Linked DNA regions of Homo sapiens. The protein of the gene in region 1 purifies or fractionates together with the protein of each later gene. This does not show direct contact. Each region holds a gene or a part of one and is shown in the gene's direction. Other genes may lie near its edges.

The links.
Region 2: the proteins of CDK19 (region 1) and MED9 purify together in Homo sapiens (affinity purification with mass spectrometry; 9 studies listed by BioGRID and IntAct, with this or other methods). This does not show direct contact.
Region 3: the proteins of CDK19 (region 1) and MED4 purify together in Homo sapiens (affinity purification with mass spectrometry; 9 studies listed by BioGRID and IntAct, with this or other methods). This does not show direct contact.
Region 4: the proteins of CDK19 (region 1) and MED12 purify together in Homo sapiens (affinity purification with mass spectrometry; 12 studies listed by BioGRID and IntAct, with this or other methods). This does not show direct contact.

Annotation. Positions count from the first base shown.
Region 1 is NC_000006.12:110,811,351-110,820,032, reverse strand, and holds the start of CDK19 (cyclin-dependent kinase 19), read left to right. Parts: upstream 1-4,563; 5' UTR 4,564-4,896; coding exon 4,897-5,024; intron 5,025-5,217; exon of another isoform or gene 5,218-5,416; intron 5,417-8,682.
Region 2 is NC_000017.11:17,471,062-17,480,497, forward strand, and holds the start of MED9 (mediator of RNA polymerase II transcription subunit 9), read left to right. Parts: upstream 1-5,938; 5' UTR 5,939-5,980; coding exon 5,981-6,204; intron 6,205-9,436.
Region 3 is NC_000013.11:48,075,224-48,079,812, reverse strand, and holds the end of MED4 (mediator of RNA polymerase II transcription subunit 4), read left to right. Parts: exon of another isoform or gene 1-36; intron 37-2,259; exon of another isoform or gene 2,260-2,371; intron 2,372-2,461; exon of another isoform or gene 2,462-2,501; coding exon 2,502-2,674; 3' UTR 2,675-4,089; downstream 4,090-4,589. UniProt on the Homo sapiens protein: Component of the Mediator complex, a coactivator involved in the regulated transcription of nearly all RNA polymerase II-dependent genes.
Region 4 is NC_000023.11:71,112,702-71,121,611, forward strand, and holds the start of MED12 (mediator of RNA polymerase II transcription subunit 12), read left to right. Parts: upstream 1-5,894; 5' UTR 5,895-6,053; coding exon 6,054-6,152; intron 6,153-6,671; coding exon 6,672-6,776; intron 6,777-6,984; coding exon 6,985-7,176; intron 7,177-7,312; coding exon 7,313-7,469; intron 7,470-8,269; coding exon 8,270-8,451; intron 8,452-8,625; coding exon 8,626-8,736; intron 8,737-8,860; coding exon 8,861-8,910. UniProt on the Homo sapiens protein: Component of the Mediator complex, a coactivator involved in the regulated transcription of nearly all RNA polymerase II-dependent genes.

The DNA of each region.
Region 1 (8,682 bases):
AGAATTGAGGGCTTCTCCCCTTTTTAGACTCTATAGGGTAACTTCTCAAGTTGCTATGGCATTTGTAAACTGTCATGGCACTGGTAGGATGTCTCCTATAATGCATGCTAATGCATTATAACTAACATATAATGGGCAACAAGGAGACCAGGGGTCAGTGAGTAGACCAGAGGTCACCATCCTGGTTTTGGTGGGTTTTGTCTAGCTTCTTTACTGCATCTTATCAGTGGAGTCTTTATGATCTGTATCTTGTGCAGGCTTCCTATTTCACCATGTGACTAAAAACACCTAGCTTCCTGGGAATGCAGCACAGCAGGTCTCAGCCTTATTCTACCCTATTCAAGATGGAGTCACTGTGGTTCAAATGCCTGACAGTTATTTCTATCTTGATGCCCCCATAGGTACTTCCAATTCGACATGCCCCAACCAAGCTTATCTTTCTCTCAAAAATTGCTCCCATTCCTGTGTTTCCTAACTTTCTGAAATTTCTACCATATTGCTGAAGTCAAAATTCTCAAAGTTATCTTGGATTCTTCCCTCTCCTTTAGTCCCACATTTAATTAATTACTAAGTCTTGTTAAATTTTACTCCTAAATAATTATAGTATGTGCTTTTTTCTTATAGTGCTGCTCTTCCGTGGTTCAGATCCTTGTTTTTTGTTTGTTAGTTTGTTTTGAAACAGAGTTTCGATCTTGTTGCCCAGGCTGGAGTGCAATGGTGCAATCTTGGCTCACTGCAACCTCTGCCTCCCAGGTTCAAGTGATTCTCCTGCCTCAGCCTCCTGAGTAGCTGGGATTACAGGCATGCGCCACCACGCCCGGCTCATTTTGTATTTGTAGTAGAGACGGGGTTTCTCCGTGTTGATTAGGCTGGTCTCAAACTCCTGGACTGAGGTGATCCGCCCACCTCGGCCTCCCAAAGTGGTGGGATTACAGCCATGAGCCACTGCACCCGGCCCAGATCGTTGTTTTTACCGTCCTATTGCAATAGCTTCTTTGCTAGTCTCACCTTCCTCCAATTGAACCTGAACACTTTTGTCAGAGAATTTGCTTAATACTCAGGGCTGATTATAGTTCTCCTTAGCTCAAAAGTGTGTAATAGCTTCCTATTGCCTACAGAATTGAGAAAAGAAAAAAACTTTCATTTGAGGAATGTGAGGCCTTTTAAATTATAAGGCACAGAGAGACATTAAAATAATACAGGAATTAGGCTCGCGCCTATAATCCCAACACTTTGGGAGGCCAAGGTGGGCGGATCACTTGATGCCAGGAGTTCAAGACCAGCCTGGCCAACATGGCAAAACCCTGTCTCTACTAAAAATACAATTAGTTGGGCTTGGTGGCACATGCCTGTAATCCCAGCTACACAGGAGGCTGAGACAGGAGAATCACTAGAACCCAGGAGGCAGAGACTGCAGTGAGGTGAGATCGCGCCACAGCATTCCAGCCTGGGTGACAGAGCAAGACTCTGTCTCAAAATAAATAAATAAATAAATAAATATATATATAAATAAGATACTGGAATCAGGTGATACTTTCCCCTTGAGCTATGTATTCATCTCCTGAAATGCTTGCTATTGCCACAAGTAGCTACAAATTAATCCAATAATGCTGCACCAGATGCTATAACCCACACCCTATATCTTAACAATGTATAGCTCATTCATTAATCAATGTTATTCCTGTAAACCAATGAGAATTCCTCACAAACAACTTTGAGCCCACTTCCTATCCCCCTTTTTTTGCCTTTAAAAATCTACTTGCAACTGCTCCTGATTGGAGTGTACATTCAGGGCAACTTGTATCTATACTCCTGGGTTGCAATTCTAAAGCTTGGCTCAAATAAACTCTCTACTTATATTAATTTTGCCCCAGCTTTTTCCTTTTAGGTCGACAGAATAATGAAACCTAAAACCTCTCCCTGACATAAATAGCTTTTCATAATTTGACCTCTGCTTATCTGTTTAGTATTTTCTTATCCATTACTTTTTCCTGTCTTAATCTGTAATATTCAAACTAGTTGCATTTCTCAGAATATATGATGTTCTCTCATGATTTATGTACATGCTGTTCTACCTGAAATAATTCCTTGTTTCTTGCTCTTCGACTTGTCCTTCAAGTAAAGGCTTACTCATGCTTTAAATTTTGGCTCTCACTCAGCAGATGGGGCTGGAGTGAAAAAAAAATTTGGCTCAAACCTACCTACTTCATGAAGTCTACCCTGACTCACTTAGAACCCCGCCTATTCTACCAGTGCTCTTTTAAACCACAGTTTATTTTTAATTTGCTTGCATATTTGTTTTTTCAGGTTTAATTCCCCAATGGAAAAAGACTAATTTTTTTCCTGCTATCTCCAGCAGTTATTATAGTGCATGGCAACAAGAGCAACTGAGATTTTTCTTGATTAAAGATACCATTTTTTTTTGAGTCGGGGTCTTGCTCTGTTGCCCAGGCTGGAGTGCAGTGGCATGGTCTCAGCTCACTGCAACTTCTGCCTCCCGGGTTCAAGGGATTCTCCTGCCTCAGCCTCCCGAGTAAATGGGACTACAGACACATGCTACCACACCTGGCTAATTTTTGCATTTTTAATAAGAGGCAGGGTTTCACTGTCTTGGCCAGGCTGGTCTTGAACTCCAGACCTCGTGATCCACCCGCCTTGGCCTCCCAAAGTGCTGGGATTACAGGTGTGAGCCACTGCACCCAGCCTGAAGAGACTCAAGGTCTAAGGAAGTTTTCCAGGAGTGGGTGATGTAGCAAATAAGGTAAATCATTCCCCCTCCCACTAGTTTTCCAAGTTTCTTTCAAAACCTAGCAGGCAGTTCACTATTCTTTCCTTATCTACCACTTTGGGTAGAATTGACAATTCCCTTCTTTGTCCTCCTAATGAATGTGTTATGTCCTATCCTAGCACCAATCATGTTTAAGTGTGTATCCCAAACATTTGGGACATTAGGCTCACCATTACAGGGGAGGAAACCCTCTTAGGTTCTTCAGCTGGTCTATAAACTAAATTGATACCAGTCAGGTTAACAGGAGAAAAAGTTTTAATTACGTATGTATGCACAAGAGTCCCACAAAATATGAGACTCAAAGAAGGGCCAGATGTTTGACACTTATATTACATCCTGACCTCAAAAAGGAAGTGGGGCCCGGCATGGTGGCACGGACCTGTAATCCCAGCTACTCAGGAGTCTGAGGCAGGAGGATCCTTGAGCTCAGGAGTTGGACGCCAGCCTGGGCAACACAGCAAGGCCAGTCTCTTCAAAACAAAAGTGGGGTTTGGGGCTTCCAGGAGTGGTGGAGACAAGTTAAGAGAGGATAAGAGGAAAAAATGTCTAAGGTGAATAAAGGTTGACTTTTATGCAGATAAAAGTATCTCAGATGATACAAGTTGACTAGCAGCAGCTCTCTTTCTGGTAAGATTCCTTTAATTACGAAAATTTCCTTTAGAAATGTAAATTTCTCTTTACAAAGGAAGAGTTATTCTTTATTTTAGGCAGTAGTGGGATAAGTGAAGCATTTTCCTGTGTTGGCTGGATCTTAATTTATTTTGCTAAAAGACATCAATATGCCAGAGTGGCGTATTTTGGGGTGGCATATTCTGGACTCCTTCAGTTATAATTTGGGGTAGTGTGTCCTGAGCCCCAACACAATGAAATCAATCAACGTTCACCCTAACTAAAGGGGCTTTCTTAAACATTCTAGAACCTCACATCATGCATAGACCATAAAAAATCCTTTACAATTCAACCCAAAGGATCGTAAACGCGGCTTCCTCCAGGCACTTTTAATTGTCCTTAGACAGATGGCCAAAGCCTGGTTATGGGAACCGCATATGCTAAGAGAAAGCTGACTACAGCGCCAAGAAAATGATGATTGGCTGCTGGGGCTCAGAAGTTGCATGTTCTCCTCTGGCCAAGGCAGGCTCTAGGAAACTGCTGAAGGTTCAGTTTTTGAAATACGGTTTTTGCATCGTAAAGAAAAAAGATCAACCTATCAGGAAGAACCGAGCACATCCAATCACCAATCAAGAGCGGGAAAGAAGCCAAAGCCTGGGGATACCCACGCACCAACGAGGACGTCATTCTCCAGCCCCCGCCAATGAGCAGCGGGACGGGGGGCGGGGCAATAGGCGGACCCACTGCCCTAGAAAAGAAACAAGCTGCGGTACAACTGTCCTCACCAGCCCTCGCCTCCCGAGTCACTGCAGCCAACCCTTCAGCAAGGTGCTGATTTAATGCTTTCCATACTCTCTGCGTGGGGCTAGTTACAGTGAAGTATCCCCTTCCCACTAGAGTAAGGCACTTCTTTCCAGTGTCTCCCCGAGAACCGCAGAAAGCACACTGGAACTTCGAGCTTTCTACCTTCACAGGAACCGGGAGCCGTGCGCTACCTGAGGGGGAGGGGCGGCCCTGGTACGCAGGCGCGCATGCTTTGTGGGGGCGAGGCTGTGGTGGCCCGAGGTAACCTGGGAGCTGTATTTCTTACGCCGGCAAAACCGCCCAGGCCGCTGAGGCCTTCGCGACTTCATTTCCCAGGAGCCTCCGCGACCATGGGGCGGGCCAGTGAGTTCGCTAATGAGCTCGAGGAAGCCACGGCGCGGCCCACCAGGTTCCAAAACAAGGAAATGAAGGAGGGAGGCGGGACTGGGGGTGCCTGCGGGAGCCGCCGCCGCCGTCGCGGAGGAGGAGGAGGAAGAGGTGGAGGAGGTGGCTGCTGTGGCCGCCGAGGAGTCCCTTGCTGAAGGCGGACCGCGGAGCGGCGGGCGGCGGGCGGCGCGCGCGCGCGCGCGAGAGGCGGCTGTTGGAGAAGTGGAGCGGCGGTCGCGGGGGGAGGAGGAGGAGGGACTGAGCGGCGGCGGCCCCCGCGTCCCGTGCCTCTATGGGGGAAGCAGACAATGGATTATGATTTCAAGGCGAAGCTGGCGGCGGAGCGGGAGCGGGTGGAGGATTTGTTTGAGTACGAAGGGTGCAAAGTGGGACGCGGCACCTACGGTCACGTCTACAAGGCGAGGCGGAAAGATGGGTAAGAGCAGGGGCGGGAGGAGTAGGCTCGCTCGGGTCCTCGCCCTGCCCGCGACCTGGCGGGATGGGTGGGTCGGATCCCAGTCGGGCCGTGCCCGAGGGGCGAGGCGGAGGGGGTCGCGGGGTTGCGTCCGGACACCGACTCCGAGGGGCGCCCGTTCCGCCCGCCTCCCCCGCGCGGCCCCGTCGCGTACCTCGAACTCCCGCGGCGCAGCCCGGTCCGAGGCGTCGGTCCCGTCCCAGAGGGGCGCCCTCCGAGTGCTCGGAGACGGCGGGGGGACTCGAGTTGGGACCGCGGTGGAGGAGGAGTTTGTGGGGTCTAGTCTCTTGGGGGAACGCAGCGGGCAGGCAGAGCTCCGCTGCGGAGTTGCCGCTCCGGCCCTGGGTAGTGACGGTCGTTGTGGAACTTCCAATCGGCTGAGCGCCTCGCGGGGGCGGCGGTTTGAAACCTCGCCGGGGAGCCTGTCGGGCGAACGCGGCCTGGGGTCCTCGCCAGCCCCACGGCTCTGACCCGCTGGGCACCGCCGCCCCCAGCAGCGATCTCCGCCCTTCGGGCTGGCCGGCCCGTTGGCTTCTCTATGCAGTCCTCCCATCCCTGTTGTATGCCCGGCGTCCCGGGTTTCTCATTCTCACATTCTGAATTGCGTACCTTCCCCCTTCGAAGGAGACCTGATGGGCTAGCTGCGTTTCGCAAGCGGCAACTTAAGAGTTGGCTGAATTCTCTGCTACCCACCCTTTACCTTGCAGCCCCTTGGGTATCTTGGGTATTATGTCCTCCACTCCATCCTCTGCCAGATGACTGTGGGCTGGGGCTTATGGAGTACCTATATTATCAAGAACGGAATACGAAGTGACAGAGCTGGGCCTGAACCTTTGTTTTCCTAGGAGTTGAGGGAGAACTGTAGGAACACCTTGGGAAGCCTTTACTGGTTGTCCTCTTAAGAAGAGCTGGATAATGTACTGAGAATACCTGTCCTTTCTTGGTCCTGGAGGGCAGACAGCAGCTACAGCAGGACTGGTGGAACCAGCTTCCTGGCAGGAATTACCCTCCCCCAAAGCTAGGGACCCAGGAAGATGCCCTGTCCAGCATAGACTTTAAAGAGAGTCAAACTCTACGGAAGAGGATTGTAACGGACCATTTCTGAATAAAGTGATGATCAGCCACAATGACATTAGTAAAATTTGAAGTGCCGCTTATCTTTGTGCGTGCTGTTATAATTTGATGTGGTTGGTATATGAACTCTAGGACTAAAGTACGTTGTGTGCGTATGCACTAACTTCATAAAACAACTCTATTATAAAGTGTTTTGTCATAAGGTATCGTGAAAATTGCAAAGTGCTATCCAAGTGTAAAGGATTATTATTATTGCAGAATTTTTTTTTTCTTTTGTAACTGAACAGGCCTTAAGGTACTCAGTTGTTTCTCATAATTCCTTTAATTACCAGGTGTCCTTGAATGCTTATCATGGAATGTGAGATACTATAATTAACATATTTTGGTTTTGGAATATCCACTCCACCTGTTATACTAGTGTTCTTGTGGGAATTTTATCAGTTATATTTGGGGAAAGCACATCCAGTTTTCCGTTTGGACATTGTTAATAAATCTGAGGTGGGTTTTTCCCATACTCCTCATGCTAACTTTGTGGTATACTTTTGGTTTTAAAAAATGTATCTTAGTGTTTTTTTTGTTAAAATAGCTTTCTTTTATTAGGGAACTTTTGAGAAGTTAAAAATTCTGCTTCTGAATTGTATTTGAATAGTATGGGCTTACAACAAAAACCAGATAATTCTTGCTTCTATTCTTTTTGAATATTTTTCCCCTCTAATAAAGTACTTGATTCGAATACACTTCCTTTTTGAGTGAAATTTGTTAATTAGAATTAATAAAGCTTCTTTACTAGAGTAAGATTAGTTTGTGTGTCTTCAAAATATAATGCTTTTTTTCTAAAAAAAAAAAAAACCTCTCAGGATCTGAAAGCATTAGTTTAAATCACTGTATTACGTATAAGAAAAACCGTAATAAAGGCTTTTTTCCTGGATGAAAGATCTGGTTGAGATTTGCAACTTTACAGTAAACACCCACGTCTCTTGTGGGTTGGTAGTGGGATTAATTTTATGTTCATTGATACCAGCAATTTGAAAGAACATCTGTGTCCTTTGGGTTCATGTTAAATTTTTTTTTTTTTTTTTTTTTACTGTTTTAAACAGTGGGCAGATTTGCATAGTAAAGGATTTTACACTCCGATCATGGTAGATTACAGTTTAGCTCTTTCTAGATTTTATTTTGGTTAACTCAGAAAATGCATAATGCTATTTTAGGGAGCCAGAAATCACATAGGTTACATTAAAGATAAATGATTCTGGTATATATAATGTAGTATATAACCAAAACATTGTTCAGGTCTTTAGAAGAAACATTAGAAGAAATAAAATATCATTAGAAAAGTTTAATACTACAGTTAGCAAAATGTTATTTCCCTTGAAGTATGACTTTAGGCAATATTAATTATATCACAAATTTATAAGAGGCTGGAAATGCAAGATTTACATCTGAGTTTTTCACCTTTAATTAAAAATATTCTCTGGGTCGGGTGCGGTGGCTCACGCCTGTAATCCCAGCACTTTGGGAGGCCGAGGCGGGTGGATCACGAGGTCAGGAGATCGAGACCATCCTGGTGAACATGGTGAAACCCCGTCTCTATTAAAAATACAAAAGGAATTAGCCGGGCATGGTGGCGGGTACTTGTAGTCCCAGCTGCTCGGGAGGCTGAGGCAGGACAATGGCGTGAACCCGGGAGGTGGAGCTTGCAGTGAGCCGAGATCCCGCCACTGCACTCCAGCCAGGGCGACAGAGCGAGACTCTGTCTCAAAAAAAAAAAAAAGTTATTTGTTCACCTTTTTGTTTTGCAGGAAGAGAGGCTTTTGACCCAACTCTCCTTTTTATTTAATATTTATACTTTTGAATATTTTTTGTAGAGACCGGGTCTTGCTGTGTTGCCAGAGCTAGTCTTGAACTCCTGGGCTCAAGTGATCTTCCTGTCTCAGCCTCCCAAAATGCTGGGATTACAAGTGTGAGCCATCATGCTGGACCTCCAACTCTCTTTTACTTTAAAAAAAAAAAAAAATCCGGTTTAAAAGTTGTTCTTTTTTTGTTTTTTCGTTTTACAGACAGGGTCTTGCTGTGTTGTTCAGGTTGGTCTTGAACTCCTGGCTTCCCAAAGTGCTGGCATTACAGGCTCATGCCACCACACCCAGCCAAATGTTACTCTTGAAGAGAAACAAGTTCAGAATATTTCTGAACTTTTTAATACAAGCAAGAATTCATAAAATAAATTTTCTTCATTATTAAGAAGTCGCACATGACAATTTATGGTTACAAATTTCAAGACTGCATTTTTCCAGTTAGAAACATTTAAAAATTTGATCGATAAAGGAATATTGTTAAAAAGTTCTTTTGTTGGCCGGGCGCCGTGGCTCACACCTTTAATCCCAGCACTTTGGGAAGCCGAGGCAGGTGGATCACCTGAGACCAGGAGACCAGCCTGGCCAACAAGACGAAACCCCGTCTCTTCTAAAAATACAAAAATTAGCCGAGCGTGGTGCCTTGCATGGCTGACACAGCTTACAGAGTTTGTTTTGTCAGGGTTTCAAATGAG
Region 2 (9,436 bases), on another chromosome or scaffold:
TCCCCCTCTGGCAGGTAGGGTAATGGATATTTCAGAGTTTCATAAGAAGGAGGCAAATCTACGCAAAATGCCCAGCACAAGGTTTGTCAATAAACAACCGTAATACTCTCTGCGCTCCCTGTGACTATCAGGCTGGGACCTTGCAAGCCACACCACACTTTGAGGCAGCAAAGATCCCAGCCTCTTTGGCATTCCAGTTGCATAATCTTTTTGTTGTTGTTGTTGTTGTTGTTTGAGTCAGCGTCTCGCTCTGTTGCCCAGGCTGGAGTGAAGTGGTGCCATCATAGCTCACTGCAGCCTCCAACTCCTGGGCTCAAGCAACCCTCTTGCCTTGGTCCCTCAAATAGCTGGGGACTACAAGCAACACCATGCCTGGCTAATTTTTTTAGCCAGAGATGGAGTCCCACTCTGTCACCCAGGGTGGAGTGCAGTGGCACAGTCTCAGCTCATTGCAGCCTCTGCTACCTGGGTTCAAGCGACTCTCCTGCCTGGCTAATGTTTTATTTACAATTTTGAAACTGGAGTTAAGAGTCAAAGATGTACAATAAATCTAGTAAAGTGAAACCCAAAACAACTTCTAGAAAAGGGGAAAAGTCGGGCCAGGTGCAGTGGCTCACGCCTATAATCCCAGCACTTTGGGAGGCCGAGGTGGGTGGATCACCTGAGGTCAGGAGTTTGAGACCAGCCTGGCCAACATGGCGAAACCCCATCTCTACTAAAAATACAAAAAAATTAGCTGGGCATTGTGTCGGGTGCTTGTAATCCCAACTATTCGGGAGGCTGAGGCAGGAGAATCGCTTGAACTCAGGAGGTGGAGGTTGCAGTGAGCCGAGACTGTGCCATTGCACTCTAGCCTGGGCAACAAGAGTGAAACTCTGCCTCAAAAAAAAAAAAAAAAAAAAAAAAAAAGCTGGGGGGAAGAGTGACAAAAACAAAAAGATGACCATGAGAAGAAGGGCATTTTTAAAAAAAAAGGATTAACAGAAGGGGTTAAGATTGAGGCTTTTGGGGAGCAGCTGGTAAACAGAAAAAGAAATTGGCTAACAAATAATTTGGATGAAAATTATGTAGTAAAGAGATTGGAAAAAATACGGCTTCAGAACAATAATGAACCATTTTTGATAAAAGCTAGTTCCTGGAATGGATTGCCTCTCATTTGTATTATATCAAAAGCTGTTTGGTAATTTAAGGGCAGCTGGTGAAGATCTGGTGAAAGATCACAAACAGAAGGACTAAAAGAAAGGACTCAAGGAGAACATTCTCTCAGTCTGAAAAAAATACAGTCGGATTTGTATGCTGAAATGCCCCCAAAACAAATGATTCTGAGAAATGAAACCACTAACAGAAATGAGTTGAGAAAATGAACGTAATGGAGTATCTCAGAGTTAGGAGAGGACGGCTGAAAAGAATAAAAAGGAGATTCAAGTGGAGCTCAGAGAGAGAAGAAAGACAATCCGCAGGGTGGACCCAAGCAAAGGGCTTTTGTCTGAGGTTTATGCAATGAATCGTGGCTTCAGTGAGCTGATTCCTGGTATACATTGCACTACATTTGGCCAGAACAATGATTGCTGCCTTTTTTTTTTTTAACTCACAAAAATCAAAGTATTGTGTAGCTTTTTCCACCTGCCTGAGGCTCCAGGTTATGAAAAGAAAAGGATGAATCATAAGTAAGAATATAGCTTTGATGAAAAAGCCCTCTATCATATGATGACATGATCAGTTTAACAAGACCCATGGTGTCTGTCTGACGGAGACATGACTATTTTTGGACTTTACGTAGCAGAATTCTTGTATCACAAGAATATTCATAGATATGTGTGATACGGGTCCACTTTGAGCATCTGAAAGTTCAGTTCTGGGTGCAGTCTGGTTTTTGTATGTGTTCTTGTAGTAGCAGTTTATTGCATAAGGAATAATTACTCCAGGGTTTTTGAAAAAAAAAAAAATTAAGTAGCAGTAGTAGCTAACACATAGATGCTTACTATGTGCCAGGCACTGTTTGAAGCTCTTGACATGCATTCCCTCTTGTAACTGTTTCAGCAGCCCCATTAGGTAGGTACTGTATGATTCCATTTTGCAGATGAGGAGACCCAGGCTCAGGGAGGTTAAATAACTTGCCCAGCGTCATAGAGCCAGAGAGGAGCAGAGCATGGAGTCTATGTGCCAAACCCCCTTGCACCCACCCCTCTATTTGGCCGTTGTTCATATTTATCCTATTTACTTCAAGTTATCTCATATACAAGAGATAAAACACCACATAGAAAGTTGCTGTGCCTGTTATATTCCCAGTCCTTGCTTCGTCCCCTGTCCCATCCATGTGAGGTGTATCCCCCAGTTCCTTTTTCAAATACATTTACATAGGTGTCATATTTATGGACAATAGAGAATGTTATTTTTCATGCTTCAACATTTGCATAAGTGGTAATATACTCTATATCCATTGTAGAACTCGCTTTTTCCTCCATTTCCACCATTATGATGTGAGTGTTGTCTATGTTGATATGAATCCATTTCTCTGCACCATCCAGTTCTGTAGTTGCTGGCCACATTTGGATGCTGAGCAGTGATATGTGACTGCTGGAATTGAGATGTACGGTGAGTGTAAAACACCCGGTTTCAAAGACAGTAGGAAAAACAGTAAAATATCCTATTAATAATTTTCATATTGATTACTTGTTGAAATTATAATATTTTGGACATATTGGGTTAAATAAAATGTATCATTAAAATTAGCTTCACCTATGTTTTCTCTCTCTTTTTTTTTTTTTTTTTTTTTGAGACAGAGTCTCGCTGTATCGCCCAGGCTGGAGTGCAGTGGTGTGATCTTGGCTCACTGCAACCTCTGCTTCCCAGCTTCAAGCAATTCTCCTGCCTCAGCCTCCCAAGTAGCTGGGACTACAGGTGTGTGCCACCACGCCCAACTAATTTTTGTATTTTTAGTAGAGATGGGGTTTCACTATGTTGGCTAGGCTAACCTCAAGTGATCCACCCGCCTTGGCATCCCAAAGTGCTGAGATTACAGACATAAGCCATGACACCCGACCTGTTTTCTTATTTTTTAATATGGCTGCTAGAAAACTGAACACCGCCTCTGCGGCTTGCATGTTTGGCTTACATTTTTATCAAAGGGCAGTGATGTGGATCATTCCTCTTAGCTGCTGTCTGTCTGGGTTTTGTTAATTGGTGAAGTAAGAAGTCCTAAATCTAATAGCAAGAAGAATTACTATTTACTGCGCACAGATATTTACTCTAAGTGCTTTACAAGTAATGGCCCATTCAGTCTTGCGAGGTGGCATGGCTGCACGAAGTGAGATTAAGCAATTGCCCAGTCACGAAGCTCCAAGGAGGCTGAGTTGAGGCTGAAGTCAGGCGGCTGCCTCCAAAGCCTGACCTTGTAACCACTAACTGGACAAGGCCCCGTGAGAAACGGCATAAATCCACCTAAGAAAGCAATGACCTTAGAGCTTCCCTTGTGGTGGGGTGAAGTTTCCTTCACCACAATACATTGTCCTTACATATCAATGGAGCATCTGTCTTTCCTGACTTTTAACAGAGCAGGTTATAAACAGACACACATTTGTTGTGGCAATTTCAGCTTTAATGAAACCAGCACAGGCAGTATTTTTCTGACATCCGCTTGCAACATTATGAAGTCAGCTTTACTCTTTGCCACTAATTATATTAACTATTTTTAGGGCAAACTGTCAATGCACCATACTGGTTCATGCTTCCTAGGTTTTCAACCTGTTTTCTTTAGCCATATCTATTTATACCTCAAGTGTTTTTTCTTTTAAGAAGCATCCTCATTTTTCTGACAATGATATAGTTGTGGCTCATAATTAAGTTATAAAACACTCTGGGAGGGCAAAGATGACGTGTGATTGCCATGGGGATATTATTGATGAATATTGGATTGGTTTTTGAATTCTGAATTCAAACCCACTTTAACATTTTGAATCATAAAGTTACAGAACTGGTAGGGATCCGAAGTCTCTTTAGTGTTGGTTAAGATCATAGACTTGGCATCAGCAACTGCGTTGACCCTTAGGCTGGGATCTTAACCATTGTAAGTCTTGGTTTTCTCATCTAGAAAATGGGGATCCTGACATCCATCTTCTAGACCTCTGTCTGTGGATTGAGACAGTGACTGTAACTCTGTTCCCTGTATCTACTTTTACTCCATGGTAGTTGTGGTAATTACTATTATTATTACTATTACTATATCATCTTTCCCCAGATGACTCCAAGGGTATACAGTCTCTTCAAGCACATCTGGCCTTTTTCTCCTCCATGCTCAACCAGAACTCTTGAACTTTCCCTTAGTTGGAGAGGTCAATGGTTAGAAGGAAGAAAACTCCGCAACCCACTCCCTCCCTTTGCTCTCTCTCTGGGGCACCGTGGGCAGCTCTTGCTGCAGAGAGCTGTGCTGAGGCCCTTTACTACAGAACCTGTACAGCGCACCCTCCAACAGCACTTCCATCTATGGTCCTACTCCCCAAGGATCTGCCTCCGCACAGCCCTCCCAATGTGCCTGAAAATATCAGCATTGATCCTTTCCCTGGCCACCTTGCTCTTAAGGCTCCTGTTCATCATGCTATGTGGATGTGGACCTCCTCGCCTCTCTGTACTGCCCATGATGGTGGATTACAGCAGAATGGGCTCACCAGTTGACAGCTTTCCCCACTCATGTCTTCTACTCACTAGCTAAGCTTGGGGTGGGTGTCCCCATTGCCCGGAAAATTACTACACAGCCCTCATATCAAACTTGTTTTGAGAAGCATAACCATAAACCCATCTTTGGCCTATGATCCTAGGGAGTCCTCATGCCAACAAGACCTTTTGGGGTCAGCCACGCATGTGAAGTTAGAATGCAGTTTAGGCTGTGCCATGAATCTGAACTAAATATGATTTTAGGGGTGAGGAAACTGGGACCTAGGGGCTTGGGGAACTGGCCCGAAGGTATGGAGAGTACCTGACCTTGTCGTTCTTCCAGGATATGATATTTACTCCTGGCACCAATCCCCTCTACCTTGTACTGAAAGCAAGGACAGCCTGCCTGCAACCACACATACAGGTGGCCATCCAGCAGGTGCATACTAAATGTGTGTTGAGTTGAATTATTAGACTCTTTCTAAGCAACCTTGCAGCATTGAAGGGACCGCAATCCCTTTGCCTCTGCGTCCTTAGGGCTAAACTCGAGGTCTCGATGTCTTGCACTGTGGGCTGGGCCGGGTTTGGTGCCTCACCCAGCAGGTAAGTGCTGTCTACGCCTCCCACAGGTCCAGTGGCTCCTCTCCAGACTTGGGTGCACTGGGCCAGGCTGCACCTTACTAATCTCAAGGCTTCCTGTGTTTGTGGCTTTGGGGCCCTCTTCATCGTGTGAATAGGAATAAGAAGATTGTTATTTCTGGCCGGGTGCAGTGGCTCACGCCTGTAATCCCAGCACTTTGGGAGGCCGAGACGGGCGGATCACCTGAGGTGGGGAGTTCGAGACCAGCCTGATCAACATGGAGAAACCCCGTCTCTACTAAAAATATAAAATTAGCCGGGCGTGGTGGTGCATGCCTGTAATCCCAGCTACTAGGGAGGCTGAGGCAGGAGAATCGCTTGAACCCGGGAGGCGGAGGTTGCGGTGAGCCGAGATCGCGCCACTGCACTCCAGCCTGGGCAACAAGAGCGAAATTCCGTCTCAAAAAAAAAAAAAAGATTGTTATTTCTGAAATAAACCCCTATTTCTCACTATTTAATAATTTAGCAATCTTGACTCACAATCCAAATCCAGGCACCCCAGACCCACCCACGGCCCGTTGCCTAGCAACAGCCTCCCCACCCCCGCCTCCGCGCCTTTTCCCGCCGACTGCCCAGTGCGCACGCTCAGAGCCTTCCTCCACACCCCGCCCCTGCAGGGCGCGCGGTGGTGACGTGTAGAGTGCGCGACGCTTTTGGCGACCCGACCTCTGGCTAACCTACCCCCGGAGCCATGGCCTCTGCTGGGGTGGCAGCCGGGCGACAGGCGGAGGATGTATTGCCGCCAACGTCCGACCAGCCGCTGCCTGACACCAAGCCGCTGCCGCCTCCTCAGCCGCCGCCGGTCCCTGCGCCTCAACCGCAGCAGTCGCCGGCGCCACGGCCTCAGTCACCTGCCCGCGCGAGGGAGGAAGAGAACTACTCCTTTTTACCTTTGGTTCACAACATCATCAAATGGTAAGAACCTAGGAGAGGACCAGGCCCCATACTCCCTCCAGCTTCTCCTCTCAGCCGTTTCAGAGCTGCAAGAGGCCTTGGCGCTCTGGGGCACGCCCCCGTTTCACAGATGGGGAAACTCAGACCCAGAGCGGGAAGAGGCCTTTCCCAAGACCACAGAGACATTCCATGAGTTAAGCAAACGATTTGAGCCTCGAGAGGTGCGATATCCTTAAGAATGAAGCCAGCTTAGAGACTAAATGCAGACTCTTGTCCAGCGGCTCAAATGTTCATCCCAGCGATCTTGAGCAAATTAAATCTCTTTAAGCCTCAGTTTTCTCACCTTTAATGTTGGTAATACTCACTTTAGTTCCTTAGTTCAGCAAACTCAACAGATAAGCATCATCTTCCCTGTGCCAAGTGCTACGGGATGGACGCAGTAAAAGGGGCCAACTTTTCACCCCCAAAGGTTTAGATAGAAGGAAAAAAAGACATGATTGGGAATAACCCACAATTCAAAAAGATTGAGACGGGAGTGGTGGCGATGGGAAACATTAGACTAAGCAGAAACACAGAAGTTGCCTCAGATGATTAGACCCACTTGTACTGACTTTGTTCTAACAGTACCAAAGGAAATAATTGTTGTCATCCTTTTGGCCAGCCTTCAGGGTAGCCTGAGTTTTCAAAGTGACTCTGTAGAGGAAAAACCAAAAACAAAAACACAAAAGTCTCACTGATCCTTATGTTTGCCTAAATTATTATTTTTTTTGAGAGAGGGTCTCGCTCTGTCACCCAGACTGGAGTACAGTGGCGTGATCTCGGCTCACTGCAGCCTCAACCTCCTGGCCTCAAGCCATCCTCCCACCTCATCCTCCCAAGTAACCGGAACCACAGGCATGAGCCATGGCACCCAGCGAATTTTTGTATTTTTTGTAGAGATGGAGTTTCACCATGTTGCCCAGGCTGTAAATTATTTTCATTATGTTACTTCACTGTATATCCACGTGATACTAGGTGTAAACCCCTAGGCTTGTAACTCTTACTCAACCATTAAAGACCAAAACAAAGTAAATTAAAAGAAAATTACGATTCCAGTAACATTCAGGTGAACATGAATGTGCTCTTCACTGTTTTACTGAAATGGAATTGTTACAACGTGAAGGTCTTGACTGTTAGTGGCCCACCCACTTTTGAGTTTAAGCAAATTAGATTCACTTGCTGTGGGATGACCTGATGCTCTTCTGCCACTTTTCAAATAACTACAAAGGCTTTGTTCTCACATTAGACCCTGGCTTCATTTGGTTTCACTTGGTGTTTAAATACTGTTTATAGGGGCCAGGCATGGTGTCTCATGCCTGTAATCCCAGCACTTTGGGAGGCCAAGGCGGGCGGATCACGAGGTCAGAGTTTGAGACCAGCCTCGTCGACATGGCAAAACCCCATCTCTACTAAAAACACAAAAATTAGCCGGGTGTGGTGGCGGCTGCCTGTAATCCCAGCTACTCAGGAGGCTGAGGCAGGAGAATCACTTGAACCCGGGAGGTGGAGGTTGCAGTGAGCCGAGATCATGCCATTGCACTCCAGCCTGGGCAACAAGAGCAAGACTCTGCCTCAAAAAAAAAAAAAAAGTAATGCTTATAGGATAAGGCAGCCTATTCAGTTTTCGTGAGCCTGTGATAATGATCATAGACAGAAATACATATGGAGCCCCTGTAATCCTAGGGCAGTGCTGGATTATAAAGGGTTTATTCTGATTAACCCTAGTTTACTGGTTTTAAGAAAAATGTGGAAAAATGAAAACACAAAATGTACACATTCACAAGGACAGCTCTTGAACTCCCCAAGAGTATATTCTTGAGCCCTGGTAGAGCAGCTGGGTTGGGTTGGCCTTAAAAGATGTAGTAGTAAGTTATACTAGAGAGAACAGGCTTTGAAGTTAGACAGCCCTGTGTTCAAATCTGTGTACTGACATTTTCTTGCCTTCTAATCTTGATATAAATGCCTAACCTTTCTAGGCCATAATCTTCTTATCTCTAATATGTCCATAGTGGACCTCAAAAGAGAGGTTCAGATTATGTCATAGCTCTATAATGTGCTGACTGGGTGACCTTGGCAAGTAGCTTAGCTTCTCTGAGCCTGTTTTTCTCTTGTGAAATGGGAATGCTTATGTCATAGGATTGTTGGGAGATGTACTCAGGAGTGTACCTGTGAAACATAGTGGGTTGATCACATGTGCTTGTCTCTGTTCCATCTAAAAGGACAGAGAAGGGAGTTTAAAAAAAAAAAAAAGCATAAAACCTTCAGACATGGTGGTTCATGCCTGTAATCCCAACACTTTAGGAGGCTGAGGCGAGCCGGTCGCTTGAGCCTGGGAGTTCAAGACCAGCCTGGGCAACATGGCAAAACCCCGTCCCTACAAAAAATACAAAAAAAATTAGCCAGGCATGGTGGTGTGTGCCTGCAGTCCTGGCTACTTGGGAGGCTGAAGTGGGAGGATCACTTGAACCCAGATCATGCCACTGCATTCTAGCATGGGTGACAGAATGAGACCCTGTGTCAAAAATAAAAAGCATAAAACCAAAAAGAATAGGACAGGAGATGATTGCCACAAAGTGGATGACCAGGGCTAATTCATCTACCAACTCCTAAGCACCTGGTTTGTTAACCATGGCCTATCCCCAGATCTCAGGAACTCTAGTGCAAGGACCCCCTGGAAATAGGGGTGAAGGTGGGTCTAAGAACAGGAAGATTACTTGGAAGTCTGTTTAAGAAGCAGGTCCCCACAGTCCTGTCCCACCTCCCATCCCCTCCAAGCGGCCGGGTGACTACCCTTCTTCCAACTTGGCAGATGGTTAAAAGGTTACTCTCCCGAGATTTATTCTTAGGAAGGAATAAGCCAGAGAGTACCTTGACTGTGGGACACCAGGCACACTGCAGGGGTAGGTAGGGGGAGCCATACTGAAAAGAGGGATTAAGAGAAAGTTCACAGTCTGAAGAGAGACACCACCCGAGCCTTCCCCCACCTGGCTTCTAGATTGGCAGCCAAAGAGAGTGGAAGTGCCCTCTCTATGGTGCGTGACCAATTAAGAGAAAAGACATTGGAAAAAAAAAAAGCCTAGTCAATTAATTCTGAGAAAATGAACAAGCATCACTCATTTGCAGAGCTTCCACTAAGCCTTTTAGTGTTTTATTCTTAAATATATGAGTGGATGGCCAAGGTCACTAAGCATAGGAAGAAACCCCCTGGTAAGAA
Region 3 (4,589 bases), on another chromosome or scaffold:
GATCAGGGTTTTCCAGAGATGACAAGGTTGGAATATCTGGCGGTAAAGCAAGTTTGAGATTCCCGACACAATTTTTTTTTTTTTGTAAATTTGAGACAGTCTTGTTATGTCACCCAGGCTGGAGCGTGTTGGCGAAATCTTGGCTCCCAGGTTCAAGTGATTCTTGTGCCTCAGCCTCCCGAGTAGCTGGGATTACAGGTGTGTGCCACCAGGCCTGGCTAATTTTTGTATTTTTAGTGGATATGGGGTTTCGCTCTGTTGGCCAGGCTGGTCTCGAACTCCTGACCCCAAGCAATCACCTGCCTCAGCCTCCCAAAGTACTGGAATTACAGGTGTGAGCCAGTGTGCCTGCCTCTCAGACCCAGTTCATTGTAATAGCTAGATTCTTTGCCGGTTTATTCTGCTCTAAAGATTCTCCTTGAGGGAGGTATGAAATTAGAACAAGCTGCCTTTCTCTTATTTGTAAATATTACACTGTCTTCCTCAGGCATTTGGCCTCTCTTTTTAAATTATTGCTCTAAACATAGCTTTTTTATAATTGTGAAACATGCTATGTAAATAGAGTAAGATAGTTTACGGAATAAAGTGAACACACTCCTGAACAACCCCCAAGTTAACAAAATGAATAACAATAGCTTTTTATAAACTTTTATAACTTTATAAAATAGTATTTCTGTGAGACCCAGTTCATTCTGAGCTTCAGTTTTCCTCAAGTTTTTCATAGGTTTGTGCTATTTTTATATATATTTGTTTTATATTATTCCTCATCTTTTATAGTTTGTAGGTGACTTTTGTTTTGATGTGGTAGAACATTTGGGAAGTAGAAAAAGGCATTTAAAAAAGGAAAAAAATATACCCTTTCTGAGGCAGTCACTTTAAATATTTTAGCCTGTTTCCTTTTTTCCCCTATACATTTTTTGCTTAATGTTACATCATAAGGCTGTCCCTGTGTCATTAATAATGCTTTGTATGCATCATTTTTGTTAGCTACCTAAAGTACAACCAGGGGAACTCAACTGTGATATCCTTGGATATCACCTCATATTTCTCATGTTTTAAAAGTACAGGAAAAACAGATATGGGGAGTCACTGCCACATTTTGGACCAAGGAAGGGACAGACCTAAAAACAGTCTTCCCCAGCTCCATCCCAAGGCCGATACTCTCATATCATGGTGCTGTCATTGGAGAGGGTGCAGTGTAATGTGGCCCACTCCATGGCAGAGAAGTTAGATGAGGCATCAGAGGCCAGAGCTGGCAAGCAGGAAATTACCCACTGGGGTTCCAGGGAGACTTGCTGGGAAGCTGCCCTTTGGGATTCTGGTGAAACCTGCTAGGAAACCACCTTTAGAGGCGCCACCGAAAGTTGCTGTGGTGAACACCACTTAATGTCCTGCACACCAACCAGGCATCACAGCAGTAAAGGAGACAAAACCACCTGATCCAGGAAGTGAAACTTGTTTGCTAGTGGAGTCCCACCTGTGCCCTCTACTGACAAAACTTAATTGTGGCAGCTGGCAAAGGAGAAATGGTTTCAGGGGCCAGAGAGAAGGGTAGATTTGAGGCTAACTGGCATACCTTTCTAGTTAATACCATAACTCTTTCTTTTGACCCTTTAAAAATCTGCCTTCTTTATTTGAGTCTTGAACTATACCTGTTTATGTGCTCTGTCCCTTTGCTTCAGAAATACAGACTTTAAATGTAACTTGGGCCCTTTTTTAAGGTATTTCATATGCATACATTGCTAATCAACCTCTCTTTGATGAGAGTCACTTACAATAGCAGTTCCTCTATCAAGAAATCATTCAAATCTATTATAATACTAAAGTACCTATTACTTGTTTATAATATGTAGAATAATCTACATAACCTAGTATACATAAGTATGTATTATATATGCATATAATAGATACATAGATACAGGAAAAATTTGTAATTACAAATGTCTTACAAAAGAAAAATTATGTCAACTGACTAAATAGTTTCTTACAGAGTAGTATGATTTTTTTAAAAAAGTCCCCAGTTGCTAAAATATCAACTTTTCCTTGATAAATTTGATTTTTATTAATTTGGCTAAATGTGTATTTTTTTCCTAGTCTTAAAAAAATTGGCACAATAGCTTATGCCTGTAATCCCAACACTTTGGGAGGCTGAGGTAGCAGGATAGCTTGAGCCCAGGAGTTGGAGACCAGCCTGGTTAACATAGTGAGACCTCATCTCTACAAAAACTTTAAAAAGTACTCAAGCATGGTGGCACATACCTGTAACCCAGTTACTCAGGAGGCTGAGGCAGGAGGATTGCTTGAGCCTAGGTCAGGGCTTCAGTGATGTATTCGTGCCACTGCACTCAAGCCTGGGTGACAGAATGAGACCCTGTGTCAAAAAAAGAAGAGAAAAAAGTAAAATTAAAAAAAATACTTCAAATTGTTGCATAAAGGGAAAAGTAAGAACTAGATTAATTACAGATAGAGCTGTTCTTATCTATGCTTCTTTTTTTCTCCAGATGTCCTTGCTCCACAGTATCCATGGCAGTCAAATGACATGTCGATGAATATGTTACCACCAAATCATAGTAGTGACTTTTTGTTGGAACCTCCTGGGCATAATAAAGAAAATGAAGATGATGTAGAGATTATGTCAACGGACTCCTCAAGCAGTAGTAGTGAGTCTGATTGAAAAACCTTAAAAGACAATATACAGAATTGAATACTGTAGAATTCTGTTTCTTTAACAGTAGCAGGGAAATGTAAACTACAGGTGACAAAAAATACCCAGGTAAACACTGGCTTTGGTAGAATTGTGCAGTCATTAAAAGTCAAAATTTTTTGACTTTCTTTTTAAAGCCAAAGACCATAGTTTTAGTTTTAAGCCACTAGGTAGATATTTAGGGGAATAGTCAAAATTTACTGTTGAAAAAGCAGTTGCTATGTGCTTTCTTACCCTGTTCTGTTCCAGTTTTGCTGGATTTGTACATAGCCATTCTAGAAATAGAGTTGAGGGAAATTATCCATATACATATCACTAATAGGCTTCTTGGAATTATTTAGAAAAGCATTTTTAAACTGGCAGTGGATGACTGAATAGGCATCATATTTCTTTTTGTGTGTCATTTAAAAGTAACAAAAACTGCCATTTGACAGTAAAGGCTCTTGGCTTCTGTTGGAGGCATGGGAAATTGTCTCAATTTGTACAGTTTGTAATTGTAATTTTTGTAAATAAATTTGTTTGTACATTGTATGCTTTTTTTTTAGTTTAAATATACTGTCAGTGTAGGTAGGAAATTATTTCTGTAAATCCAGTTGCATTTTATAATACTTGAGTGACTAACTGAATTGAAACCTATTACAATTAATAGGGTTCTCAAAGGCCTATTCCTATTAGAAGAAATAATTTTTTTTAATAATTGAAAAAATTTACCACAGCCTTGTCTGATTTTAAGAATAGATTGTGTGAAGATTTAGAATGGAAAGCAACCATTTCTTCCCTTCACCTTCCTCTTCTTACAGTTCCCCAGGAGTCATTTTTAACCACTTTTAATTTCTGTTGGTAACCTCTGTGTTTAGGTAATATGCTTATACAACTATTTCTTGATGTATCAGTTTTAGACAATGTATCTTCTGATTTCAAAGGTAATACAACATTTAATGTGAAACATTTAGTGAATACAGTAAAGGAGAAAATAAAATTGTTAGCATTCTACCCAGAGATAATATCAATTCATATTGTAGTGTAGATTTTTTTAAAGTTCACATACACTTTTTTGTAAAATGAGAATAATGTTTATTTCCTGAGATACTGCTGTATTTTTTAATTGCTAATCTGTATTCTTCAAATGAACTGAGAATTCCATTTTTCCATCATTTTTTCCTTTTGATTATTTTCGATCTCTAGAAAAATTGGAAAATAGGAGATTAATCTTATATTTTCACCATCTAGAATTAAGGACATACAATGTTTGAATGTCTTTCCCTCCAGGGTTATTTTTAGGAATGGACTAACACAATATCTAATTTTAACCTTGCCTTGTCCGTATACTAGGAATATTGATCCATGTGTATACATTCTTGAAAGATTTACTTTAATGGCTAAAATTTTATTGTGGTATGTGCCATAATGTAACTGCCTGTTTTTATCACCAAATCTTTAGGGTAGATTCAAAAGGATTGTGTTTTTCAAATTCTTTAATACTGTATTAGTTTTCAGTTGCTGCCGTAACAAATTACCACAAACTTGGCTCAAAACAACACAAATTTATCTTAGTTTTGTACATCACAAATGTGAAGTGGGTCTCACCTAAAATCAAGGTGTGAGCAGGGCTGCATTCCTTCCTGGAGGCCATAGGGGAGAATCTGTCCCCTGTGTCTTCCAGGTTTTAGAGGCCGCCCTTGGTCCTGCTCCAGGCCCCTGGTTGGTGAGTGTTTCTCATTCTGCATTACTGTGATGCTCTTCTGCCTACCTGTCCCATATTTAAAGGATCCTGTGATCATTCTGAGCCCACTGGATAACCCAGAATAATCTTCTTATTTAAAGTGAGATGATTAGCAACCTTTATTCTGTTTGCAACCTTAATTCTTCCTTGCCATGTAACAAA
Region 4 (8,910 bases), on another chromosome or scaffold:
CATAAATGTAGAGATACTACAAAGTATGTGAGCACAGAAGAGGAAGTAACTAAATTTACCAAGATGGAGAGGGGGATAGTTTAGTGAAGGCTGTGCTGAAGAGGTGCTATTTCAGTGGCATCTTAAAGAATGAGTGTAATTTTACCAGACAGAAAGTGGTGTAGGATATTAAGCAAAGAAAAACAGCACTTGCCTGGGAGTCTCAGGAAAACTGGACTATATGGCCCAGCTTAGTATTTAGTATGTATCTTTAGTATGTATTAGTTTGCTAGGGCTGCCATAAGTTATCCCCAAACTGAGTGGCTTAAACCAACAGAAATTTATTCTCTCGGCTGGGTGCAGTGACTCACGCCTGCAATCCCAGCACTTTGGGAGGCCAAGGCAGGTGGATTGCTTGAGGAGTTCGAGACCAGCCTGGCCAACCTGGTGAAACCCCGTCTCTACTAAAAATACAAAAATTAGCCAGACATGGTGGCAACACCTGTAATCCCAGCTACTCGGGAGGCTGAAACATGAGAATCGCTTGAATCTAGGAGGCAGAGGTTGCAGTGAGCCAAAATTGCGCCACTGCACTCTAGCCTGTGCAACAGAGTGAGACTCCATCTCAAATAAATAAATAAATAAATAAATAAAAATTTTTTAAAAAGGAAAAAAAGGCATTTATTTTCTCACAGTTCTGGAGCCCAGAAGTCCGAAATCAGTGTGGCCAGGGTTGGTCCCTTCTGGAGGCGCTGAGGAAGAAGTTGTTCCATGCCTCTCTTCTAGCTTCTGGTGGCTGCCGTCGATCCTTGGTGCTCCTTGGCTTGTAGACACATCATTCCAATCTCTGCCTCCATCTTTGCATTACCTCTTCTTCTTCTCTGCATCTCCTTTATCCTTCTCTTCTCTTACAGGGACACCTGTCATTGGATTTATGGCCCACCCTAATCCAGGGTGTTCTCTCCTAGGAGCTTTGCCTTAATTACAGCTGCTAAAAGCCTTTTGTCAAAGAAGGTGACATCCACAGGTTCCAAGTGAACATATCTTTTTGGAGGCCACATTCAACCCACTACAGAGGGCATTCTCCAATTTAAAAGTCTTCAAAAGCTACTCATGGCCTTCAGAATAAAGCCCAAGCTCCAATGATCAATTCCAGCCACACTGGATATGTCATACGCATTTCCTTTCTCTGGAATTAGCCTCTTCCTAACTTTCTGTAGGCTAAAATCCTTCAGAAGGCAAAACCCCATCTCTACAAAAATACAAAAATTAGCCACGTTTGGTAGCACTCACCTGTAGTCCCAGCTACTCAGGTGGCTGAGGCACAAGAATCACTTGAACCCAGGAGGCAGAGGTTGCAGTGAACTGAGATCGCACACTGCACTCCAGCCAGAGTGACAGAGCAAGACTCTGCCTAAAAAATAAAATAAATAAAATAAATAAATCCTTCAGGGCTACATGCCTATTAGAATAGCCAAAATGGGCTGGGCAAGGTGGCTCACACCTTGCCTGAAATCCCAGCACTTTGGGAGGCTGAGGCGAGTGGGTTGCTTGAGCCCAGGAGTTGGAGACCAGCCTGGGCAACACAGCAAGATCCCATCTCTTGTTTAAAAAAAAAAAAAAAAAAAAAAGAGGCCGGGCATGGTGGCTCATGCCTGTAATCCCAGCACTTTGGAAGGCCAAGGTGAGTGGATCATTTGAGGTCAGGAGTTCAAGACCAGCCTGGCCTACATGGTGAAACCCCGTCTCTACTAAAAAATACAAAAATTAGCCAGGCAATAGTGGCGCATTCCTGTAATCCCAGCTACTTGAGAGGCTAAGGCAGGAGAACTGCTTGAGCCTGGGAGGCGGAGGTTGCAGTGAGCTGAGATTGCACCACTGCACTCCAGTCTGGGTGACAGAGTGAGACCCTGTCTCAAAAAAAAAAAAAAAAATTGCCCAAATCCGGAACACGGACTACACCAAATGCTGGCAAGGATGTGGAGCAACAGGAACAACTCTCACTTGTTGCTGGGGGAAATGCAAAAATGGTACGGTACAGCCACTGGGGAAGACGGTTTGGCAGTTTCCTATAAAACTAAACATACTCTTTCAGCAATCATGTTCCTTGGTATTAACAAAGGAGTGGAGGCCGGGCGCGGTGGCTCACGCCTGTAATCCCAGCACTTTGGGAGGCTGAGACGGGCGGATCACGAGGTCAGGAGATCGAGACCATCCTGGCTAACACGGTGAAACCCCGTCTCTACTAAAAATACAAAAATTAGCCGGGCATGGTGGCGCGTGCCTGTAGTCCCAGCTACACAGGAGGCTGAGGCAGGAGAATGGCGTGAACCCGGGAGGTGGAGCTTGCAGTGAGTCGAGATCGCGCCACTGCACTCCAGCCTGGGCGACAGAGCGAAACTTCGTCTCAAAAAAAAAAAAAAAAAAAAAAAAAACAAAGGAGTGGAAGACTTGTGTTCACATAAAAACCTGCAGACGGATGTTTATAGCAGTTTCATTCATAATTGCCCAAACTTGGAAGCAACGAAGGTGTCTTTCAGTAGGTTTATGGATAAACTGTGGTACATCCTGAAAGTGAAATATTATTCGGTGCAAAAAGAAATGAGCTATTAAGGCCGTGAAGAGACATGGGAGAAAACTTAAATACATATGACTAAGTGAAAGAAGCCATGCAGAAAAGGCCACCTACTATAGGATTCCAACTATATGACATTCTGGAAAGGGCGAAACTATGGAGACAGTAAAAAGATCAACGGTTGCCAGGGGTTGTCGGAGAGGGAAGGATGAATAGGTGGAGCAGAAAAAGTTTTTAGGTCAGTGAAAATATTCTGTAAGATACTACAATGGTGGACACATGTTATTCTTTGTCCAAACTCACAGACTGTATAAAATAACATCAAGAGTGAACTTTAACGTAAACCATGAACTTTGGGTAATGATGTTCAAGGTAGGTCCATCAACTCTAACGAATATACCATTCTGGTGGGTTTGTTGTTGTTGTTGTTGTTGTTGTTGTTGTTTTGTTTTGTTTTGTTTTGTTTTGAGACAGAGTTTCACTCTGTTGCCCAGGCTGAAGTGCAGTGGGGTCATCATGGCTTACTGCAGCGTCCACCTCCTGAGATCGAGTGATTCTCTCCCCTCGGCCTCCAGAGTAGCTGGGACTACAGGCGCCCGCCCCTAAACCCTGCTAATGTTTTATTTTGCTTTTGGAGAGATAGAGGTTCTACCATGTTGCCCAGGCTGGTCTAGAACTCCTGGGCTCAAGCAATCCACCCATCTCGGCCTCCCAAAGTGGTGGGATTACAGGCATGAGCCACCATGCCTGGCCCACTCTGGTGGGGGATGTCAATGGGGGAGTTTATCTATGTGTGAGGGCAGACAGTATATGGGAATTCTCCATACCTTCCTCTCAATTTTGCTGTGAATCTAAAACTGCTCTAAAAAATTCTTTTATGCTGGGTGCTGTGGCTCATGCCTGTAATCCCAGCACTTTCAGAGGCTGAGGTGGGTGGATCGCTAGAGACCAGGAGTTTAAGTCCAGCCTGGGCAACATAGCAAAACCCTGTCTCCACCAAAAAAAAAAAAAAAAAAAAAAAGCAAAAATTAACCGGGTGTGGTGGCCAGCGCCTGTGATCCTAGATACTTGGGAGGCTGAGGTGGGAGGTTTGCTTGAGCCCAGGAGGTAGAGGTTGCAGTGAAGTGAGATTGCACCACTGCAGTCTAGCCTGGGCCACTGAGTGAGACCTTGTCAAAAAAAAAAAAAAAAGAAAAAAAAAGAAAGAAAAGAAAAATTATCTTTTTAAAAATATCCTTCAGGTTGGTGGCTCACGCCTGTAATCCCAACACTTTGAGAGGTGGAGGCAGGTGGATCACCTGAGGTCGGGAGTTCGAGACCAGCCTGACCAACATAGAGAAACCCCGTCTCTACTAAAAATACAACAACAAAAAAATATTTAGCTGGGCATGGTGGTGCATGCCTGTAATCCCAGCTACTCGGGAGGCTGAGGCAGGAGAATCGCTTGAACCAGGGAGGCAGAGGTTGCAGTAAGCCGAGATTGCGCCATTGCACTCCAGCCTGGGCAACAAGAGCGAAACTCAGTCTCAAAATAAATAAATAAATAAATAAATAAATAAATAAATAAATAAAATATCGTTCAGGCTGAGCGTGGTGGCTCACGCCTGTAATCCCAGCACTTTGGGAGGCCGAGGTGGGCGGATCACTTGAGGTCACGAGTTTGACACCAGCCTGGCCAACATGGAGAAACCCCGTCTCTACTAAAAATACAGAAATTAGCTAGGCATGATGGCGCAAGCCTGTAATCCCAGCTACTGGGGAGGCTGAGGCAAGAGAATCACTTGAACCTGGGAGGCGGAGGTTGCAGTGAACCGAGATCACGCCACTGCACTCCAGCCTGGGCAACAAGAGTGAGACTCCGTCTCAAAACAATAAATAAAATAAAAAATAAAATAAAATAAAAATATCCTTCAGAGTTAGTTCAAATGTTACCTCAGCCTCCTGAGCAGCTGGCATTACAGGCGCCTGCCACCACACAAGCTAATTTTTGTATTTTTAGTAGAGATGGGATTTCACCACGTTGGCCAGGCTGGTCTTGAACTCCTGACCTCAGGTGATTCCCTGCCTTGGCCTCCCAAAGTGCTGGGATTACGGACGTGAGCCACCACTCCCCGCCTTGAATTACTTCTTCTTTCCATTGTGATTCAATAGCATTTTGTTATTTTTGTTACTGGTGTTATTTTTGTTTATTGTTATTTGTTACTTTTGTTACAGCACACTGGCTGTCTTTTCTCTAAAAGGCAATACAAGGCCGGCACAGTGGCGCACGCCTGTAGTCCAGGCTACTGGGAGGCTGAGGCGGGAGGATCGCTGGAGTCCAGAAGGTTGATGCTGCAGTGAGCCGTGATAGCGCCACTGCACTCCAGCCTAGGCGACAGAGGGAGAACCTGCCTCAAAATAAACAAATAGCAATACGACAATAGGATATTGGCTCTGGAATTCAGAATCTTAGTGCCAGCTCTGTTACTCAGTAGCTGTATAATATTGGATAAGTGAATTTTCACACTTTGAAAACCAGCTTCCTCCATCCGCAAAATCGAGCCAATAATAATCCCTAACTCATGAGGCTGTGAGCAGATTAAAGGAGATAGTGTCTGAAAAGCATCTGACACAATAGGTGCCTCTTTAGCTAGACCAAGGGTTCTTAACCTGGAGTTCATGGACCCTTAGGGGATACATGGATGAACTTCAGGGGATCTAAGAATCTAAAGCAACATTTTGCATGTCAATATATGCATATTATTATTATTATTATTATTATTTCTGGGAAGAAGGTCCATAGCTTTCATCAGCACCTTTAAGGGTTTGTGAATCAAAAACGTTAGTATGCGGTACCCTTGGGCAGAAAAACAAACAAGAAAAGGTTAGACAACTCGATGGTAGACCTTGAGGGATTAGAGCCAGCCTTTCAGGGTTTAATAGGTTCTTTCTCATGCATACATAGTTTCTAATGTTCACAATAGCCCCTTGAAGGAGGTGTTAGCGCACCTATTTTTCAGATGCCGGAACTAAGAAACGAACTGATCTGTAATAGACGGAGTTCCTAACCAATGCAAATATTATTGAAGACTTTTCTAGGCCAAAACCGAGCTAGGCTATGGGAACCGAAGTCCAGTCAGAACTCAGCACCACAGAGGCCTCCTTCTTCCCTGGTTTGCATCCCCAGCTCATTCTGCGCCTCCGGAACGTTTCATAGATTTTTGCTGAGTGAAATCGACTTGCTGCCGCCACCGCCGAAAAACTCCCGGGGCACAGAGCTCCGCCCCCACCGGGCCAGGCCCCACCTCCTCTGCAGTCGGTATTGTCCGATGGTTCCCGGCGTACCTCGGCTTCCCTCGGTAGTTTCCGGCAATGGTCGAGAGTTTCTAACGTGCCCCCTTGTTGTCTCTCGGCCGCCGTCCTCTCAACCACCGCCCCCCTTTTCGGCTCCCTCTCCCCCTTCCCGTTCCCCCAGTCAGCCTGGCCCTGCTGGTGCCTCCGGCGCTACGGGCTGGGCAAGATGGCGGCCTTCGGGATCTTGAGCTACGAACACCGGCCCCTGAAGCGGCCGCGGCTGGGGCCTCCCGATGTTTACCCTCAGGACCCCAAACAGAAGGAGGTGCGTTCGAAAATCGGGGCTCTGGAGGGGCCGGGGGCACGCGGTCAGCCTAGGAGGAGGCACTGACGGCTGGGAATGGGGGGCGGGGCGGTTCGGTGAGAGCAAAAGTCCCGAAAGGGGGAAGAGTAAAGTGGGCTGGCGTGGGAGGGCAGGACGGGGGGCGGTGGGGGGTTCCAAGGTATGAATAGGGGGTGGTGTAGGGGCCGCACCAGAGGCGCCCTCCTCCACACACACCTCAGAAAGTTGTCTGAGACAGCTTGGTGGGGTACGGCTGCTCGGCTGTTCGCAAGAGAAGAGTGATGTTTGAGGGCGCGCTGGGTGGCTGGGAATCCTAGTGACCATGGGAGTGAGGGTGGGGTCCAAGTGAACGTAAGGGCCCAGCTTTAAGTAACGATCTGTTCTACACGGAACCCTCCTCCTGCCCTTTCACCTTGTTCCTTCTTTTCTCCTGCCCTACTCTCCCACCCCTTCCCCCTTCCCCTAAGGAAAAAACAACTAAACGCCGCTTTCCTGCCTCAGGATGAACTGACGGCCTTGAATGTAAAACAAGGTTTCAATAACCAGCCTGCTGTCTCTGGGGATGAGCATGGCAGTGCCAAGAACGTCAGCTTCAATCCTGCCAAGGTGAGACAACTCTGCCAGGCTGAAGGAAAAGGCTGGAAGAATCTAAGAAGGAGCAAAGGCCCTGGGTTGGGAAGACTTATAGGGACAACCTAAGTGGCTGAGTTTGCCTTCATGACCTAATACTATCTCATTGGCATTTGCCCAGCAAAAGGCAGGACCACCTGTCTGCCCCTTCTTCCCACCCTGAGGTACACTTTTCTTCCCTCAGATCAGTTCCAACTTCAGCAGCATTATTGCAGAGAAATTACGTTGTAATACCCTTCCTGACACTGGTCGCAGGAAGCCCCAAGTGAACCAGAAGGATAACTTCTGGCTGGTGACTGCACGATCCCAGAGTGCCATTAACACTTGGTTCACTGACTTGGCTGGCACCAAGCCACTCACGCAACTAGCCAAAAAGGTAAGGTACTGTTTCCTGTCCTTCAGGCCAAGGAGGGAGCATGGGGTACCAAGTACCCTCCTATTCCCATATTAAGCTACATGGGTGTCAGCTCATGGGGATAATAGAGACCTCACTATTTGCAATGTCCATCCAGGTCCCCATTTTCAGTAAGAAGGAAGAGGTGTTTGGGTACTTAGCCAAATACACAGTGCCTGTGATGCGGGCTGCCTGGCTCATTAAGATGACCTGTGCCTACTATGCAGCAATCTCTGAGACCAAGGTTAAGAAGAGACATGTTGACCCTTTCATGGGTGAGTAACTCCTAACACCAGGTGTACTGCTGATGGCTTCAAGGAGTGATAGAGACACCCTTGGAACCATCCTCCTTCTTAATCTAGATTCCTTGTTTCTGCTTGTTTCTTGCATTTGTTTGATCAGTAAACACTGAGAAATTTGAGTGTCTACTGTGCGCATATACTGGGCTACAAAGATGTCCGGTGCATAATCTCTGCCCCTAGGATACTAGTAGTCTAACAGGGCTGCTAAGGTATATGTACAAATAACATAATTAAATATAGAAAGTGGTGAATGTCAAGCTAGGAGCAGAAGGTTCTTTGAGTGGACAAAAGATTACTTTCTTATGGGGGTACCCGGAAAGGCTTTAGGAAGGTGGGATTTGACTAGAGACTAAAAGGATGAACTGAATTTACAAATATGGTGATTAGGGGTGGGGGTAAGGTATTCTAAGTAGAAGGATTTTTTTTTTTTTGAGACAGAGCAAGACTCTGTCACCCAGGCTAGAGTGCAGTGGCAGGATCTTGGCTTACTGCAACCTCCACCTCCCGGGTTAAAGTGATTCTCCTGTCTCAGCCTCCCGAGTAGCTGGGATTACAGGCGCCCACCACTGCGCCCGGCTAATTTTTGTATTTTTCTAGAGACGGGGTTTCACCATCTTGGCCAGGCTGGTCTCGAACTCCTGACCTCGTGATCCACCTGCCTCAGCCTCCCAAAGTGCTGGGATTACAGGCATGAGCCACCGCACCCAGCCAGTAGAAGGATATTCTAAGCAGAAGGATAGTATCAAATAGCCCTTTTTCCCTCTTTCCTCCAGAATGGACTCAGATCATCACCAAGTACTTATGGGAGCAGTTACAGAAGATGGCTGAATACTACCGGCCAGGGCCTGCAGGAAGTGGGGGCTGTGGTTCCACGATAGGGCCCTTGCCCCATGATGTAGAGGTGGCAATCCGGCAGTGGGATTACACCGAGAAGCTGGCCATGTTCATGTTTCAGGTAGAGAGTAGGGCATGCTGTGTGGGGCATTGGGTTGAGCTTGAACTTGTACTCTGCCAGTAGAGAACAGAATCTGCCTGCCACCTTGCCCCAGTTGTGGTTCTCTTCATCTTTTCATTTACTTTATCTGCTTCATCTCTAATAGTCCCCTCTTCCCTCCCCTGGTACCCATAGGATGGAATGCTGGACAGACATGAGTTCCTGACCTGGGTGCTTGAGTGTTTTGAGAAGATCCGCCCTGGAGAGGATGAATTGCTTAAACTGCTGCTGCCTCTGCTTCTCCGAGTAAGGCTTGGAATTTTGGTACTGGTGGGGCAGGGGGAGTCTAAGAAGAATTTGAGGAAGAATAAAATGTTAGAGCAGGGTCCCCTGGAGAGAACTAGGGGCTCTGATGGTCGTGTCTTCACAGTACTCTGGGGAATTTGTTCAGTCTGCATACCTGTCCCGCCGGCTTGCCTA